Linked DNA regions of Homo sapiens: region 1 is linked to region 2. A link means that fine-mapping ties the variant in region 2 to the expression of a gene that starts in the linked region. Tissue or cell type: whole blood. Region 2 holds a variant in brackets; the other region holds the start of a gene. All regions are shown on one strand. Distances are from middle to middle. Region 1 holds the start of CHSY1 (chondroitin sulfate synthase 1). Region 2 overlaps CHSY1 (chondroitin sulfate synthase 1).

Region 1 (8,331 bases), 44 kb before region 2:
ACCAGAAGCCAACTGTCCTCAGCCTCTGCAGTGAGGTTGTCTCCTAAAGAACATTCAGGCTGGTTCCCAGTAGTGCCTGTGCTGGCGGCACCCAGCGTTTTCTAGTTAGGAAGATCACATCCCATCTGGCTGGTCCACATGGTTATACTGAACTTAAATCTCTTTTGTGTCTCTATCGTACACATGAAAGCTCACACACACACACACACACACACACACACACACAGTGTGAGAAGCACTCACACTGACTCAGCGTCTGATGGAAACGGTGTACACAGCTGATAAGCACTGAAGGACTTTGCAGAACACCCAGGGCTGGAATAGGCCAGTGTGTGAAACCAGAACGTGAGCCCTGCTCACTTGCCCTTTCCTGCATCTGACTGGAAATGCTACAAACAGAAGGAAATAGTGAGCGAAATTAACAACCTCATGAGGATCTTGCTTGTAAGTTTAATAGCAGCATTCATAATGAAGCAGTGTTTTATTGGGTTAACAGAGGTTAAGTGGCAATATTAGTAAAGTGGTCATTATAGATTTTCTTCTTTGCAGGCAGTGAACAGAACCTTCTGAAAGGATGGATGATTATAACTCCTCAGCATTCACTGTTTCTTAAAACAGGCCTTTCTGAAAGTTTTTTTTCTTTAATAAAAATTACCACTTTTTCCAAGGACCCCTGTTTGAGGCGTGAGTGGAGAGGCTTCATCTTTAAAGAAGCTCTAACAGGGAACTCTGTCGGTCGTTTGAGGCTTGCTGCCAACAAACAATTGAGGTATTTACCAAGGGTTTCCAAGAAATTGCTGCAAATTATATGAAATGTTATACTGGTAACAGACGTTCAATGTATTAGCAACAGAAAAGAAATGTGAAGTGTGTGGGAACAAAGTTGCCATCTGTGAGAAAATGCTCAGTAAGGTAGGTGGCGATGAACTTTAATAATGTGTCATAAAGAGTCACACTCATGAACACAGAAGGGAAGTTAAGTGATCTGGGATTTTTGAACACATTTCTGAATACTGGTCTGGAATCACTATGGAGGACCGTTTAACGTGATCCAGCAGAAAGACTCATTTGGAGACAGAGCCGGACTCCCGGAGCCCCTCCAGGTGGAACTCACTCCACGCAGAGCTCAGACTCGGTCCCACACTCCTGATCCCTGATCCATCACAGCCCACCTCTTGGGCCACTCCTGTGCCATTGGGACTTTCATGGAATAACTACAGTTAAGGGCTTCCTTACAAGTGTTCCTGGTAACAGTTAATACCTCCCCTTCTTTTATGATGAGAAAAATGGTCAATGATTCCCTCAACAGAGAAGGCCAGTAGCACAGTGAAATCAAGAAGCCCGGAACATGAAAAGTCTTTCCTCAGCTCCCTGCAGTGAAATCCCTATAAATGCGAATCACCCTGCCTACTCCTTACCTTTAAAAATTACTTAGGGTGAGGGGGCTTTAGGATGAGGACAGCCTTGGCCTCCAGGGGGCTGTGGGGAAGGACGCATGTGTGTGCATTGGGGGCAGATGTTCCAGACCCTCGTTGTCCTCCCTGGCTCCTTGCTGGTATTGACTAGTGGGGCTGGGCATGGGACAGGCCTTCATACTGGGGGTACCAGTCCTGTCCAGCTGTTTGGGTCTCTGGCTGTCACTGAAGTTCTTGATTCCAGGTATTTGCTACTGGCTGTGAAATCCCCACTTAGGATAGCCTTGTCTCCTGAGCCAGGCCCCTTACTGGGACACTTTTGGATTCTTCCCCAGGAGAACTGCCTCAGCTCAACAATCCAGCTGCTCCTTCCAGATGTGCTAGAGCTTGCCCTCCTGCTCCTAGGCTGCATGCCGGAATTGGTCCCTGCCCCTGGCAGACTTCTACAGGACCTCAGTTTCTCTCTTCTCCTTCCAACCCTCTCTTGGCCTGGCATATCCCTCTTCTCCCAGAGGGAGTTCCCGTATGTCTTACTCTCCTTCTCCAGGGAATTGTAAGCCCTCAGGCTCAGCCTTTACAAAGAAAAGGGTATCCTTTCTACATTACGAAAGACCCCCATTAAGCCTGCAGGTGAGACAGGTGAGACTGTTAACCTAGGAACTGAGGGACAACTAGGAACCAGGATATTGAGGAGGACAAAATATTTGGCATCCTCAGAATATTATTCCCATCAGATATTTATATACTTTTTTTTTTTTTTTCCTTGAGACGGAGTTTCGCTGTTGTCGCCCAGGCTGCAGTGCAATGCAATGGCACGATCTCGGCTCACAGCAACCTCCACCTCCCGGGTTCAAGCGATTCTCCTGCCTCAGCCTCCCGAGTAGCTGGGATTACAGGCATGCACCACCACCCCCGGCTAATTTTGTATTTTTAGTAGAGTCGGGGTTTCTCCATGTTGGTCAGGTTGGTCTCGAACTCCTGACCTCAGGCGATCCGCCCGCCTCAGCCTCCCAGAGTGCTGGGTTTACAGGCGTGAGCCACCGCGCCCGGCCAGCTTTTCACTGGACACTAGTTTCGAAGAAAACTAGGTAAGTCTAAAGCAGGTTAGAAAATACTGAAATCGTTGAATATGCTACAAAATTGAACATCTGAATCTGGCCAGATTCGTACTTCATGTAAATCACTGTGAATGATGGGGCTGCTGAATTTGGGGGATCTGGTGACTCCTCGGCATTTGTGGTTTATGGTCTTAGTGGAAACCTTTTTCGATGGTTTTCGAGCCTGTAATTCATGGTTGTATGTTCTGTATTTTTCCCAAGACCACTGCTGGAATCCTGTATTCACTGCATAATGAGTATTTTATTTTTAGATGTGGATCACCCCTTAGGGAGGGGCTCTGTGGGAAGGTAGGTAATGAACTATTTTTAATATAAATCACAAGTGTCAAAGAAAGTGGTAATATCCAAAGAATAAACAAGAGTGACCACCATTCAGGTGCCGAGAAGGTATCTGAAGCTCCCACAGGCATTTTAAACTGTGTGATAGTATTTCAACCATTTGGTCAACAATGAAGAAAGATCCAAGGATTGCCCCAGGCATGTGTTTATTTGATTCAATGCAGGTAACTTCTCAGGCCCAGGGAAACACTTTGCCCTTCAAAAGTTTCATTAGAAAACCCCAATATACTGGTGACTAAGTAACAAGACTGAAACTCTACACAAACTTTCGTTGTATGGAGACCTCCGCTTTTGCTGCCTTAGCTGAAGTATTGCAGAGGAAATGTATAAAACTTAAAATCCAGAGTAGAGGATCTGGGACCCAAAATCCGTCTTTAGAAATCCACGGCACTTTTACAGACGGACTATATTAAAGTAGGGACAAAGTCCCAGGCTGGGGGTACTAGCCGGCTATCTGCCCACACAGTATGTAAATGAAAGTAGGGTTTACCATCCAGGGCATTAACTTCATTTTCCTTGTCTTCGAGATCCATTAAATGCTAGTACTGTATGAGAAGCGTGGACCTTAAGTATTAAAGATGGCTTTTTCTTCTTCTTCTTCTTATTTAGCGTAGAAACTAGCAACAGGGAACAAGGTAACTGAATTCACGGTCCACTCGCAGGCGCGCACGTCCCCAGGGCTCCGGGACGGCTGTTCCCTGCGTGCGGCCGCGGGACTGCGGACAAAGCTGCAGTGTGGTCGGGAGCGCGGGGCCGGGAGCGCGGGGCCGGCCCGGCGGCAGGAAGGGCGTGGCCGTGGGGTGCAGCGAGGACGGCCCGTGCGGGAGGAACGTGCGCAGCGTGGAGTCTGGGGGCCGAGAAGCCCCCACTGCAAGGCTGGCTCCCGAGATTCGCGCCCGGGCGCCGCGGTGCGGGAAGCGGCCGTCCTCGCGGGGACGCCCTTGCGCCGGGTGCTAGGTGCGGATCACGGGCAGCTCCGGCCCCGCGGGCGCCGGGCGGGGGCCCACGCCCCCTCCGCCCGCCAGCTCCAGTCGCAGACCGCGCGGGCGGGGCGCCCGAGAGGGCTTTTTTTTTTTTTGGTCAAACTTCGGCCACGTGAACCGCCCCTCATTCACTTTTGCGCCAATCGCGCGGCGCGGACGGATCCCGAGAGGGGCCACGGCTCGCCGCCGGCGGGGCCACTTCATAACGCGCCGTGCGTGACGTGAGGGGCTCCTGTTGCAATGGCGAGCTAAGCCGGAGGATGTGCAGCTGCGGCGGCGGCGCCGGCTACGAAGAGGACGGGGACAGGCGCCGTGCGAACCGAGCCCAGCCAGCCGGAGGACGCGGGCAGGGCGGGACGGGAGCCCGGACTCGTCTGCCGCCGCCGTCGTCGCCGTCGTGCCGGCCCCGCGTCCCCGCGCGCGAGCGGGAGGAGCCGCCGCCACCTCGCGCCCGAGCCGCCGCTAGCGCGCGCCGGGCATGGTCCCCTCTTAAAGGCGCAGGCCGCGGCGGCGGGGGCGGGCGTGCGGAACAAAGCGCCGGCGCGGGGCCTGCGGGCGGCTCGGGGGCCGCGATGGGCGCGGCGGGCCCGCGGCGGCGGCGGCGCTGCCCGGGCCGGGCCTCGCGGCGCTAGGGCGGGCTGGCCTCCGCGGGCGGGGGCAGCGGGCTGAGGGCGCGCGGAGCCTGCGGCGGCGGCCCGGCGGGCGGAGCGGCGCGGGCATGGCCGCGCGCGGCCGGCGCGCCTGGCTCAGCGTGCTGCTCGGGCTCGTCCTGGGCTTCGTGCTGGCCTCGCGGCTCGTCCTGCCCCGGGCTTCCGAGCTGAAGCGAGCGGGCCCACGGCGCCGCGCCAGCCCCGAGGGCTGCCGGTCCGGGCAGGCGGCGGCTTCCCAGGCCGGCGGGGCGCGCGGCGATGCGCGCGGGGCGCAGCTCTGGCCGCCCGGCTCGGACCCAGATGGCGGCCCGCGCGACAGGAACTTTCTCTTCGTGGGAGTCATGACCGCCCAGAAATACCTGCAGACTCGGGCCGTGGCCGCCTACAGGTGAGCCCCTGCTCCCCGGGCACCGCCTCCTGCGTCCGGCATCCCGGCGGCCGGCATCCCGGGTGCTCTCCTGGCTCTCGCCTCCGCCCGCTTCCTAGGCCCTTCTTGGGCTTCCGGCGGGATCGGGTTGCCTCTCGGGAGACGCCGGGCCGAGGGAGAAAAGATCAGAGGCGGGATGGTGAGCGCGGCGCTCAGGAACATGGCCTTTGGGGTCAGATGGACTAGTGTGGCCTCGCTGGGTGTACCTCTCACCCTGATGAAGGCACTTTAGCCTTTGCAAATCGAAGCTTCTCGTTAGAAGGGCCCGACAGATCGGGTCTCCCTCATAATGTTGGAAAACTCATAGCACAGTACCTGATAGTGGAGGCAGTTGGGGCTGATACTGGATTCCCTAAAATGTGCACCTTTGTCCTTGCAAAGCTGGAGCCCGTGTACGTTAATCTAGTTCTAGAACCTTTCCACATCATACTCTCACATTTCGCAGTTGGAGGCACTCCTATAAATGAAAGAGAATGCCCGCAGCATATTGGACCACACCAGTCTGTTGAGTACAGAGAGAGAGAACCTTGGGGAAAAGCAGTTCTTGGCCCTTGGTAGATTCAGTGGAAAACTGCATTCTGGTGTTAATTAGTTCAGCTTGGTGGTGTATGCATGTTATCCAGTAACTGGGCTCTAGTTGGCCAAATGAGTCATAAAAGCAGCTGGAATTGTGTTCAGGTTTAACAAAGGGATTAGCCAATGTAGTCTCTAGAAGGGAGATGATTTTGGAATGGCTGGCATGGTTAGAATCAGATTTGTATTGGAGTGAATTTGAAGTTGGAGAGGGTTGTAGACTCGATAAAGGGATTTGATGGAAACCCTATATGTGTGAAGTATAGAGACACTTACTGTATGGATAAAGTTTGGGTCTTATCCAGCCACAGAGCAAACCAATGTGGGGAATGGTTTTAGAGCATCAGTTGTCTGGTAATGAAATTTCAGAGCAGCCAGTGCTGAGCCAGGCTAAGCTGGTTGCTGTTTGTTCTTATAACCAATACCTTTACACTTCAGTTTTTAAATGCAGTCTTGGTCAGATTTTTCAGGCACTAGATGTTGTGAGGGGAAAAGCATATATGGTCTCCCTTGCCTTTAAGGGAGAAAGTAAAGGACTGAGAAAGAAGGTGAAAGTGGTCTTCAGTGACTGCCCCTTGAATGGCTTGATCCCCATTCCTGCACATTTCCATTAGGGTCCTGCTTAAGTCCAGAACCCACATTCCGCCAGGAAGGGTCCTGAGTGGCTTGAAAAGCTTAGAATGCAGGTATTGTAAATACAGACTAATGCAGGCGGGGCGCCGTGGCTCACGCCTGTAATTCTAGCACTTTGGGAGGCCGAGGCGGGCGGATCGCCTGAGGTCAGGAGTTCGACACCAGCCTGACCAATATGGTGAAACCCCGTCTCTACTCAAGAGTACAAAAATTAGCCGGGTGTGGTGGCGTGCACCTGTAGTCCCAGCCACTCAGGAGGCTGAGGCAGGAGAATCGCTTGAACCCAGGAGGCGGAGGTTGCAATGAGCCAAGATCATGCCACTGCACTCCAGCCTGGGCTACAGAGTGAGACTCCATCTCAAAAAAAAAAAAAAAAAAAAATTCTATCTATCGATCGATAGATAGAGATACATAGACTAGTGCAGTGATTTGGGAACCAGCCTATCAGGATCTCTCCCAGATCTACCTTGCATTACCTGAGGTTTTATGGGATTTTTTTTTTTTTTTTGACCAGAGAAACAGCCGTATCGGAAATCGAGGATGAGCCATATAGATTATTTACAGCATGGTTTTGAAAGTAAATCCGCATGACTCTAGTGTGGTGATAGACCATGTGAAATCACAGTTTTGGGGACAGTTAACAAACCAGTTAGTACAAACAGTAAATTAGGTAACTCCCTTATCTCCCCCATGCCCCCTGAACCAAATACATTTTCATGGTTACGGTATCAATATATTCAAATCAGTGGGGGGCCTAATGCACCAGCAATACTCAGAAAATGTAATGCAGGCCGGGCGCGGTGGCTCACGCCTGTCATCCCAGCACTTTGGGAGGCCGAGGCGGGCGGATCATGAGGTCAGGAGATCAAGACCATCCTGGCTAACACGGTGAAACCCCATCTCTACTGAAAATGCAAAAAAAAAAAAAAAAAAAAAAATTAGCCAGGCTTGGTGGCAGGTGCCTGTAGTCCCAGCTACTCGGGAGGCTGAGGCAGGAGAATGGCGTAAACCCAGGAGGCAGAGGTTGCTGTGACCCGAGATTGCGTCACTGCGCTCCATCCTGGGGGGCAGAGCAAGACTCCGTCTCAAAAAAAAGAAAATAAGTAAAAGAAAATGTAATGCAAACTAGAACTACTGTTTCACACTTGGAGATGGTTTTCCAAACTCGAGCTTAACGCTCTTACTTTTGGCCTCCTTTCCACATCTCTTCCCTCATCTTTTTCTGGATGTAAGACTTAATCTCATTGTTTATTTATTATTTTTTTTTCAGGTGGTTAGGGGAAAGCAGAAACACAGTTTGCCCCCAGGCGGGGTTCTCCCTTTCTTTTGACACCTCTGCCTTTCTGAGAAAGGAAAACGCCTACCAGGAGATAGTGTCCAGCTAATGTCACTCCAGCTCTCTCACAGAAGTTTCCTTTTATCTCTCAGATCTTAAGAAGTCAGAGTGCATGGAGCCTGGAGGTGGACCTGCCCTGCCAGTTAGGGTCCTTTGCCTCTTGCCTGCCAACCCTGTGTTTAGACTGACTGCAGGAGTTGGCACAAGACGATTTTAGCCTTAAGGCTAAAAGTTAAGGAACTTTTGGGGAGGGCCTCAATTGGGATGGAGGTTATAGGGTATAACATATGATTCCAGTTTTACTGTGCTTTGCAGCCCAGACCAAAAGTCCACACTGAGCTCTTAAATTGGAAATTCCATGCACAGTTCAGTATAAAAGTAAGCTTGACTCTTCTAGCACAAGGTAGAACTCTAGTTTGGAAATCGATGTGCTGAGCTTTACATTTCTCCTGAAAGGTAAATTCATTCTTCATCTTATCGAAAACTGTAGTTTTGTTTTTTAAAAAAAACAAAAAAACAACTGTTGTTTGGCTTATAGATGAAGGAGATGCCAGCACTTTCAGTAAGATGATACTTTGGTGTAGAATACTGAAAATGTCAGAATTTAGGTGAAGGGACTAGTAGCTAGCAACCTCTTCATTCCAACAACTCTGAGATCCAGAAAGGGGCTAAAAAAGCTTTTGAAAATCCAAGGAGATATGCCCGTCCACACTAAAGGCACAGCACTTTGATGATAGAACATCTCCATCATTACACATTTTTACTTTCTAGACCTGCCATCTGCTTGAGGGATGGATGGGGGCCACCAAGATATAGCAGGGCAGTGACAGCTGATAGCAGACAAGAAACAGATTTTT
Region 2 (8,331 bases):
TTTTTACTATTATGAACAAAGTTGCTTTGACTACTCTTGAACAAGATTTTGTTTGTGGACATTTTTTAATATTTTTTTGAATAAATACCTAGAAGTGGAATTGCTCGGTCAGAGGATAGGTATATACTTAATTTCATAAGAAACTGCCATGTGTTTTTTCCCCAAAGTAGCCGTATCTTATTAACTCCCAACAGCACCGTATGAGAGTTCTGGTTATTTCATGTCCTCATCATTGTTTGGCATTCTCAGTCTTTTATGGTTTTAGACATTCTGATGGGTGTGTAGTGCATTTACTTCATTGTGATTTCAGTTTGCGTTTTCCCTATGACTAGTGATACTGAGTGCCTTTCCATGTGCTTATTGATCATGTGCCTGTCTTTTGTGCAGTGTCTGTTCACACCTTTTGTCCATGACTTTTGCCTACCCCAAGTCTTGAAGTTGTTCTCCTGTCTTTAAGCCACCTACTTTTTTTTTTTTTTTGGATGATATATTTTCTAGGTATAGAATTCCAGATTGGCAGGGGTTTTTTGTTTGTTTGTTCGTCTTACTATTCTTGAGCGCTTGGAAGATATCATTCCATTGCCTTCTGATTTCAGTTATTTTCTGATGAAATCACCTCTCAAGTCGTATTGTTTTTTCTTTGAAGGTATTTTATCTTTTCTCTGTATTTAGGATTATTTCTCCCTTGATAGTCAAATAATAGAAATTTTTTTTCTCTTTGATTTTGAGTAGTCCTATTATGATGTGCCCAGTTATACTGTCTTTGTATTTATTCAGCTGTGATTCACTGAACTTCTTAAATCTGTGGGTTTACATCTTTCGTCAGTATTAGAAATTTCTCAGCCATTATTTTTATAAATATTGCTTCTGTCCCATTTTTGCATCTGTTTCTGGGTCTCTAGTTACATATATATTACACATTTTCACTGAGTCCTATACGTGTTTTATGTTATTTTCAGTATTCTTTTTCACTCTAAGATCTCTGGATTTTTTCCGTCTGACACACCTTTCATTATACTAATATCTCTTCAGTTGTATCTAATCTGCCATCACACCTATTGTGCTTTGTTTGTTTTTTGAGACTAAGTCTCGCTCTTTCGCACAGGCTGGAGTGCAGTGGTGCAATCTCAGCTCACTGCAACCTCCATCTCCCAGGTTCAAGTGATTTTTCTGCCTCAGCCTCCCAGGTAGCTGGGATTAGAGGTGCCTGCCACCACGCCCGGCTAATTTTTGTATTTTTAGTAGAGACAGGGCTTTATCATGTTGGCCAGGCTGGTCATGAACTCCTGACCTCAGGTGATCCACCCTCCTCAGCCTCCCCAAGTGCTGGGATTACAGGCCTGAGCCACTGTGCCCAGCCTAAACCTATTGCATTTTAACTTTTAGCTGTGTATTTTAATTTTAGTTATTTCATTTGATATTTTTAATAGTTTAATATTGTCTGCTAAACTTCTACATCTTATCATCTGTTTCCTGGACATATTAATCACATTATTTCAAAGCCCATATCTGACAAGTATAGGTTTCTCTTGTCTGTTTTTCTTGGTTTTCAGTCACTTGGTCTTAAACAGCTGGCATGTTTAGTAGCTTTTGACTGAATCACAAACATTGTATTTAAAAAAAACTGGAATGTCTTTGGATATGATTACTGTCCTCCAGTGAGGATATAATTTTGCTTCTGGCAGACAGTTAAGGTTGGACCACGTAACCTTAATCCAATCAGATATTGAGCTGAGTTTTGAATCAGCTGCTTCATTTTTCTAAGACTTGGTCTATTTCTGGCCCACCCCTGCTCTTAAGATGCAGTTCTCCTTTTCTCCCTCCACTTTCCTCCATTTCGCAGTCTTCTTGATTATGATTTCTTTAAAATCACAACTTAGATTCTAGTTTTCTTTGACTAAAAAAAACTATTTGTAATTTTAAAACTCAAGAAAATAGGATTTGAGATTCAAAGCATTACTTTTCCAGTATCCATCTAGTGTCTCTGTATCTCTTCTAGACGTTGTTTAAATGGGGATTAGTTTTTCTATTAAATGTAGGGTTTTTGCAATGACAGGAAGATAAAGTCTTAAGAGGTTTATGTTTAAGGTGTGATGGTGCCTTCAGCCTCTTTTTCTGCTAAGCACTTTTGCTTTGCACATTATGCAGAATTGTGGCTATAATAGGCCTTACTAACTCCCTGTGGCCAAGTATTTTTAAAATCTGACAATAAAAGGTACTGGCTAATCTGTTTAGTGAGTGATTATAATCAAATCATATTCCAAGGTTACAGATCTTGTTTTTGAACTTTGTTTTTTTCTTTTCCATGCTTTTTCCTAGAAACATTCAGAAAGTTTTACCAAGGTTAATCAGTAGGCAGGAAGAGAAATAACGGACTAAGAGTTGAAGACAAGTGCTTTAAGAAACTTACTCAGTATTTTAACGACACTAACTTGTAGTAACCTCAAAGAGTCTTCATTACAAAATTTAAGGCACTTGTATACTTTTTGTATACTTTCTGTGTTGAACTTGCCATTTCAGTTGTCATTCAGTACAGATCAGTCACATGCCAGTAGATTTCTTTTTAGCTTATAGTGTTGTCCTCACATCTTCCACACTAAGAAACTGAAGAATGCCACTATGTATCTTCTAAGAAAATACCTGTCTGTTGGAACAGTTTCTGATTCACTATTTATAACCTGCCCTGAGAATTAAACATAGAAAATATAGAAAGATTCATTTTTACTGCCCTTTCTCCTCCTCTGCTGACTTCATGCAAACATTTCTTATTGTTGCATAGCAACTGATCCTGCTATTTGTTATTTTTGTTTAGCAGGTTTTTTTTTCCCATGGAATATTGAATTCATATCACAATTTCCAGTCTCTGAAGCTCAGTGATAAAGGTTTTTACTTAACCCTTTTTCCTTAAAACAAAAAGCTTCACGGCATACAGGTATATATCGCTTTATTCTTCTTACGTAAGTCTATGTATAAGTTGAAGTTTTATTAAAACGGATGGCATTTTACGAACACTGGCATTATGTCCTTAGTCACTTTCAGTCTGAAACAGGTCTCCATCCTTTTCTTGATTTTTATGACCTTGACACTTCTGGAGCTTACAGACCAGTGGAATGTTTATCAGTTTGCATTTATTTTCTCATGATTAGGTTCAAGTGTGCAGATACTACAGAAGCGTTGCTGTGTTCTCTTTGTATCCTAACAGTTTGTGATTTTGGTTTGCTCTGTTATTGGTAGTATTAACTTTGGTCATTTAACTAAGGTAGAGTGATTAGGAAAACCTGGCCAGGTTTCTCCACTGTAAAGTTACTCTCTGTCTTTTTATATTTAGTGAGTGTCATTGTGGAGAGACTGTAAATATCCTGTTCCTCATCAAACTCCCACCCCCAATAGTTTTAGCATTAATTGATGTTTCTTGGCAGAATAAATGAATAGTGTGATGGTTGCTAAATGGTGATTTTCTAATCCAGTTATTCTTTCTACTTTTATTAGTTGAAAGTAAGGAAAAGCTTGTTCCTTTTCCCATTTACTTATGTGTGTGCTTGTATGAGTATACACTCTTGTATTCCTATTTTATTTAATGAGTTATAATCTCTTACCATTATTATACATTTCCATGTTTACATCACCTTAGACGTGTCCAGTGGCTGCTGTTTGTTGCAGGCTTCTGTATCTCTTTTTTTTTTTTTTTTGAGATGGAGCCTTGCTCTGTCACCCAGGCTGGAGTGCAGTGGCACGATCTCGGTTCACTGCAACCTCCGCCTCCTGGGTTCAAGCAATTCTCATGCCTCTACCTCCCGAGTAGTTGGTATTACAGGCGTCCGCCACCATACCTGGCTAATTTTTGTATTTTTAGTAGAGACGGGGTTTCACCATGTTGGTCAGGCTGGTCTCGAACTCCTGACCTCAAATGATCCACCCGCCTTGGGTTCCCAAAGTGCTGGGATTCCAGGCATGAGGCACCATGACTGGCCTTCTGTATCTTTTTGATATGCCCCTATAACTGTTTGAGCAATTTCTTTCTGGCATACTAAGATGTTTCAGGCTGTTATTTTTTCCCTGCCCTAGCCTTGCAGTCTGCCATCTCTCGAAGAGTCTCTGGTTCTTTTTAGTGGAAAACATTTAGAAGCCAAGATCTAGACTGTGGGTGTGCTCGTTGCTGTGGGTGTTGGCTGGCCCACTCCTGAGCAGTGGGCTGACCAGGGGAAAATGTGCATGTGTGTGTGTGTCCTTGGGTTCCCCCTGATACTCCAAATCCCATTTCAACCCCAAAGGGTTCTTCCTCTTCTCTCCCTTTCTGTATTTGTAATTGCTTTATTTGACAGTTGAGAAATCTAGCTGCTCATTGGCCTCAGCCACATTTACTTACTGCATCAGTTTCC[G/A]CTGTAAGTGAGCAATCCTCTGTTGCAATGCCTCCTTCCCGGTGCCTTCCCTATGTGACTCAACTCAAGGGTTGGCGGCCTACCTGACGCCCCAAGGCTGGGCCACTGCACCAGCCCACCCTCACCCCATCTGGGGACCCTATCTTGCTTGACCCCACTAGTGGCTTTTTACTTCAGGACAACGGGTGGGGCAGGGGCAAGAAGCCTAACTCCATCTTGAAATAAGCTTTTCAATTTTAGTTACTAGATTCCAGGTACTACCTGTGTCACATGGCAACGCAGCCCTCATTCTCAGAGGATTTTAAAAACCTGTTGGTAAATTTAGCAAGACTGAATATTTGCTTGGATAGTATATTCTGGAAGATCTATTTTCTTTGAGTGTTTATTTGTGCCAAATATTCAACTTTTTTTTTCTAGTAGATTGGGTCTTGTCTTAATTATTTCTGTATTCCATTTAGAGGTTAACATATGAGGCACTTGAGTGTTTGATGAATTAACAGATACAGAGCATATGAGAGAGGCACCTGGAAATTTAAGAAAAATATCCTGTTAACATTGAAATGAAATATTATATAACATACTAGAAGGTATTGTTGTTCACAGATAGCCAGCATCATGAGTTGGTTCTAAAAATCAGAATGAACAATTTTTAAAATACTGTTGTTAGTTGGCGAAGTGAAGACTTGGTGACGCTGATTCTTCCCATTCTGAAGGGTTATGTGGACGTAACTCTTTCCTTTGCTTTCAGCCAAAGACTTTTTATTTCCAAAAATGAGGTATAGAAGAAAAGACTTTTATTCCCATTTTGGATAGTGAGTGGCTTATTTTTCTTTTGACTGCAAATGCTGTGTTAATATAAAAAACATTTGTCAAGAGTAGACCCTTTCTGAGAAATATATTAGACAATATTTGTTTCAGTTATCTTAGTAGGATTTTTCCCCTTTTAGGTTTTGTTTGTTTCCTTTTGGCTTTGTTTTGTTTGGTCTTGTTTCTTTTAAATTAAACTAATTTTGGAATGTGCTGACACGCGAGAGTGGTACTGGATAGCCAGTGGAAATGCGTGGCATACGTTCCTAGAACATTAATTTTACCTGAGGTCTGGGAGAGAGACTTTTTTTATGAGATAAACATGGGTGTCCTAGAGTATCATTGCAAATTAGTGTGAATTTTTATGATTAAAAATGAGAAAAGAAATTTGGTATTTTTTGGAGGACTATTTTAGGCTGTGCCCCAAAACCCTGGGAATATTTGTTCACTCTCTCTGCCATTATGGCTGCTTCTGTGTAGGGAAAATAAAATGACAAACCTACATGTTTTCTCACAGATGATAAATGTATTTCTTCTTCTCTGTAGCCTATTAATTAATATCTAACACTGCTGTCTCTTCTAGCTTCCACAGTTTACTTTCTTTTGGTGCATAATTTAATGAGTGTTCGTTTATTTTCTGAAGTGTTATTTGTATAAAGTGAGCCCACATAAAAGCTTCTTTCCAAAGTGTTTTCATGGGAAACGGATCTTGGTGGTGATCTGTCACTTAGCACGTCACCGCCTTCAGAGCCCCAGCTGATGACTAACCCCACAGTGGGAGCTGCTACCCCTGCCTGTGGGTAGTGTGCCATGTCCTCCCTCACTGCGACCTCCACCCCTGCCTCTGACTCAGTGGTTCTCTTCAGTGGATCATATGAGTCTTTAGAAACAAATACCTGGTCGTTGGTTCTCCTGCCGACTCGAGACCTGGTGGGTTTTCCCTTGTCTGTCTAGTTTCACTCCGTGGCGCACGAGGCACACCATGCCTGTGCAGCCCTAGTCTTATCTCCTGAATCAAACCTCTCGCCTCAGAGGCTCACCCGGGGAGAGAAAGGAGAGCAGACAGAGATTGGAGTTTGAAATTAAACTTCTCATTTAGTATTGCAAACGTTATGAAGCATATATCAAAAATCAAATGTCCTGGAATCCTGCTGCCTTAGTGATGGAGCGTATTACTGTCTATAGGAACTTGAAATAGAAAACACTACCATACCAGGATCATGGGGTAGAGCAAATTAATAAACAATCTTCTTTTTTTTTTTTTGAGACGGAGTCTCTCTCTTTCGCCCAGGCTGGAGTGTAGTGGCGCTATCTCGGCTCACTGCAAGCTCCGCCTCCTGGGTTCACGCCATTCTCCTGCCTCAGCCCCCCTGAGTAGCTGGGACTACGGGCGCCCACCACCACGCCCAGCTAATTTTTTGTATTTTTAGTAGAGACGGGGTTTCACCGTTTTATCCAGGATGGTCTCGATCTCCTGATCTCGTGATCCACCCACCTCAGCCTCCCAAAGTACTGGGATTACAGGTGTGAGCCACCACGCCCGGCCAACAATCTTCAAAATTAAAATTCTTCACTTAGAGCAGAATAAGCATGTATGGGTTTGTGTGTTTAAATGTCAGGCTGCTAATACTAATAGTCGTTAGTAGAAAAATCAAGCTCAGTTTTGTGATCACAGTACTCTTCAGGTTTGGGTATGTGTCTTTTCACAAGTAGCTATAAACATCTGGTAGACCTGTGTGTTTTCTCTAGTTATCAGGAAACATTGTGGAGTCTATGTCAATTGATTACTAGCTTGTTTATATAAATGGGGAAATATAAAGACCAGGCTTTTTCTTAAACAACTGAAGAGTATGCTGGTTCTAGTTTCTTTCCTCTGAATCATGTGTGTGTGGTGGCAATTTAGTGACTGGGAGGCACTGGAAATTATTGGTTATAATAAATTGATGTCATGCCCACAGCACAGCAGGCAAAAAGGATGAATTAGAGACAGAAATAGTAATAGGGTTTTGTCCAGGAAACCTCAAGCATATGAGGTATTGCCATGTTGATTACTTTAAAAAAAGAAAAAAAAAGATAAAATATTAGAACTTTAAGCTTAATAAAAATAGATTACAGAGGAAAAACTTCTTGCTTTATGCTTCTGAAAATCTCTCTGAGTAGTTAAAGAGCTGTTTAGAAATCTGTTAGCCATACTTTCATGATTTGCTGGTGGATAGAGTATGTAGTATTGCGAAAAATTAGTTACTATGATCTTCGCCAAGTGACAGTATTCTTAACTCTGCCAGATGGTCTTTTTTGTGTGTGTGGCGGGGGGATGGAGTCTCGTTCTAGTGCCCAGGCTGGAATGCTGTGGTGTGACCTTGGCTCACTGCAACTTTCGGCTCCTGGGTTCAAGCAATTCTTGTGCCTCAGCCTCCTGAACAGCTGGGATTATAGGTGTGTGCCACCATCCCCAGCTAATTTTTTGTAGTTTTAGTAGAAATGGGGTTTCATTATGTCAGTCAGGCTGGTCTTGAACCCCTGTCCTCAAGTGATCTGCCTACCTTGGCCTCCCAAAGTGCTGGGATTACAGGTGTGAGCCACCATGCCCAGCTGGATGGTCATTTTTAACCACTGTTTTTTGGGGGGCAATTTTTATTTTGAAAAAATTTAACTTAATAGAAAACTCCTATAAGTCTTTCACCCAAATTCCCTGATTATTAATATTTACCACATCAGCTTTATCATTTTCTCTATAAGTGTACATTATTATTATTATTATTATTATTATTATTATTATTTGAGATGGAGTTTCGCTCTTACTGCCCAGTCTAGAGTGCAATGGCACGATCTCGACTCACTGCACCCTCCATCTCCCGGGTTCAAGTGATTCTCCTGCCTCACCCTCCCGAGTAGCTGGGATTACAGGTGCACGCCACCACGCCCAGCTAATTTTTGTATTTTTAGTAGAGATGGGGTTTCGCCATATTGGCCAGGCTAGTCTCGAACTCCTGACCTCAGCTGATCCACCCACCTCGGCCTCCTAAAATGCTGGGATTTACAGGTGTGAGCCACTGTGCCCGGCCTACATTAGTTTTTTCTGAACCATTTGGAAGTTGCAGATATAATGCTCTTTTTGCCCTTAAATCAGTATGTATTTCCTAAG

What was found. PIP is the estimated chance that this variant, and not a neighbour inherited with it, causes the effect.
Region 1: CHSY1 starts here. The variant in region 2 is fine-mapped to the expression of CHSY1 in whole blood (TOPMed, PIP above 0.99).

Annotation. Positions count from the first base shown.
Region 1 is chr15:101,247,699-101,256,029 of GRCh38, reverse strand. CHSY1 (chondroitin sulfate synthase 1) reads left to right here and starts at 3,982. Exons shown (of 3, transcript NM_014918.5): 1 at 3,982-4,893. The coding sequence starts at 4,574. LOC107984727 (a long non-coding RNA gene) reads left to right here and starts at 96. Exons shown (of 2, transcript XR_001751746.2): 1 at 96-444; 2 at 550-670. RefSeq lists silencers at 3,518-3,897, 4,068-4,377, 4,568-4,997.
Region 2 is chr15:101,204,071-101,212,401 of GRCh38, reverse strand. The region is part of intron 2 of CHSY1 (chondroitin sulfate synthase 1); the gene reads left to right. Among named protein-coding and RNA genes, the nearest start is that of CHSY1, 44 kb to the left of the region's middle. RefSeq lists a silencer at 6,508-6,673. The variant G/A (reference allele first, on the strand shown) is at 4,380.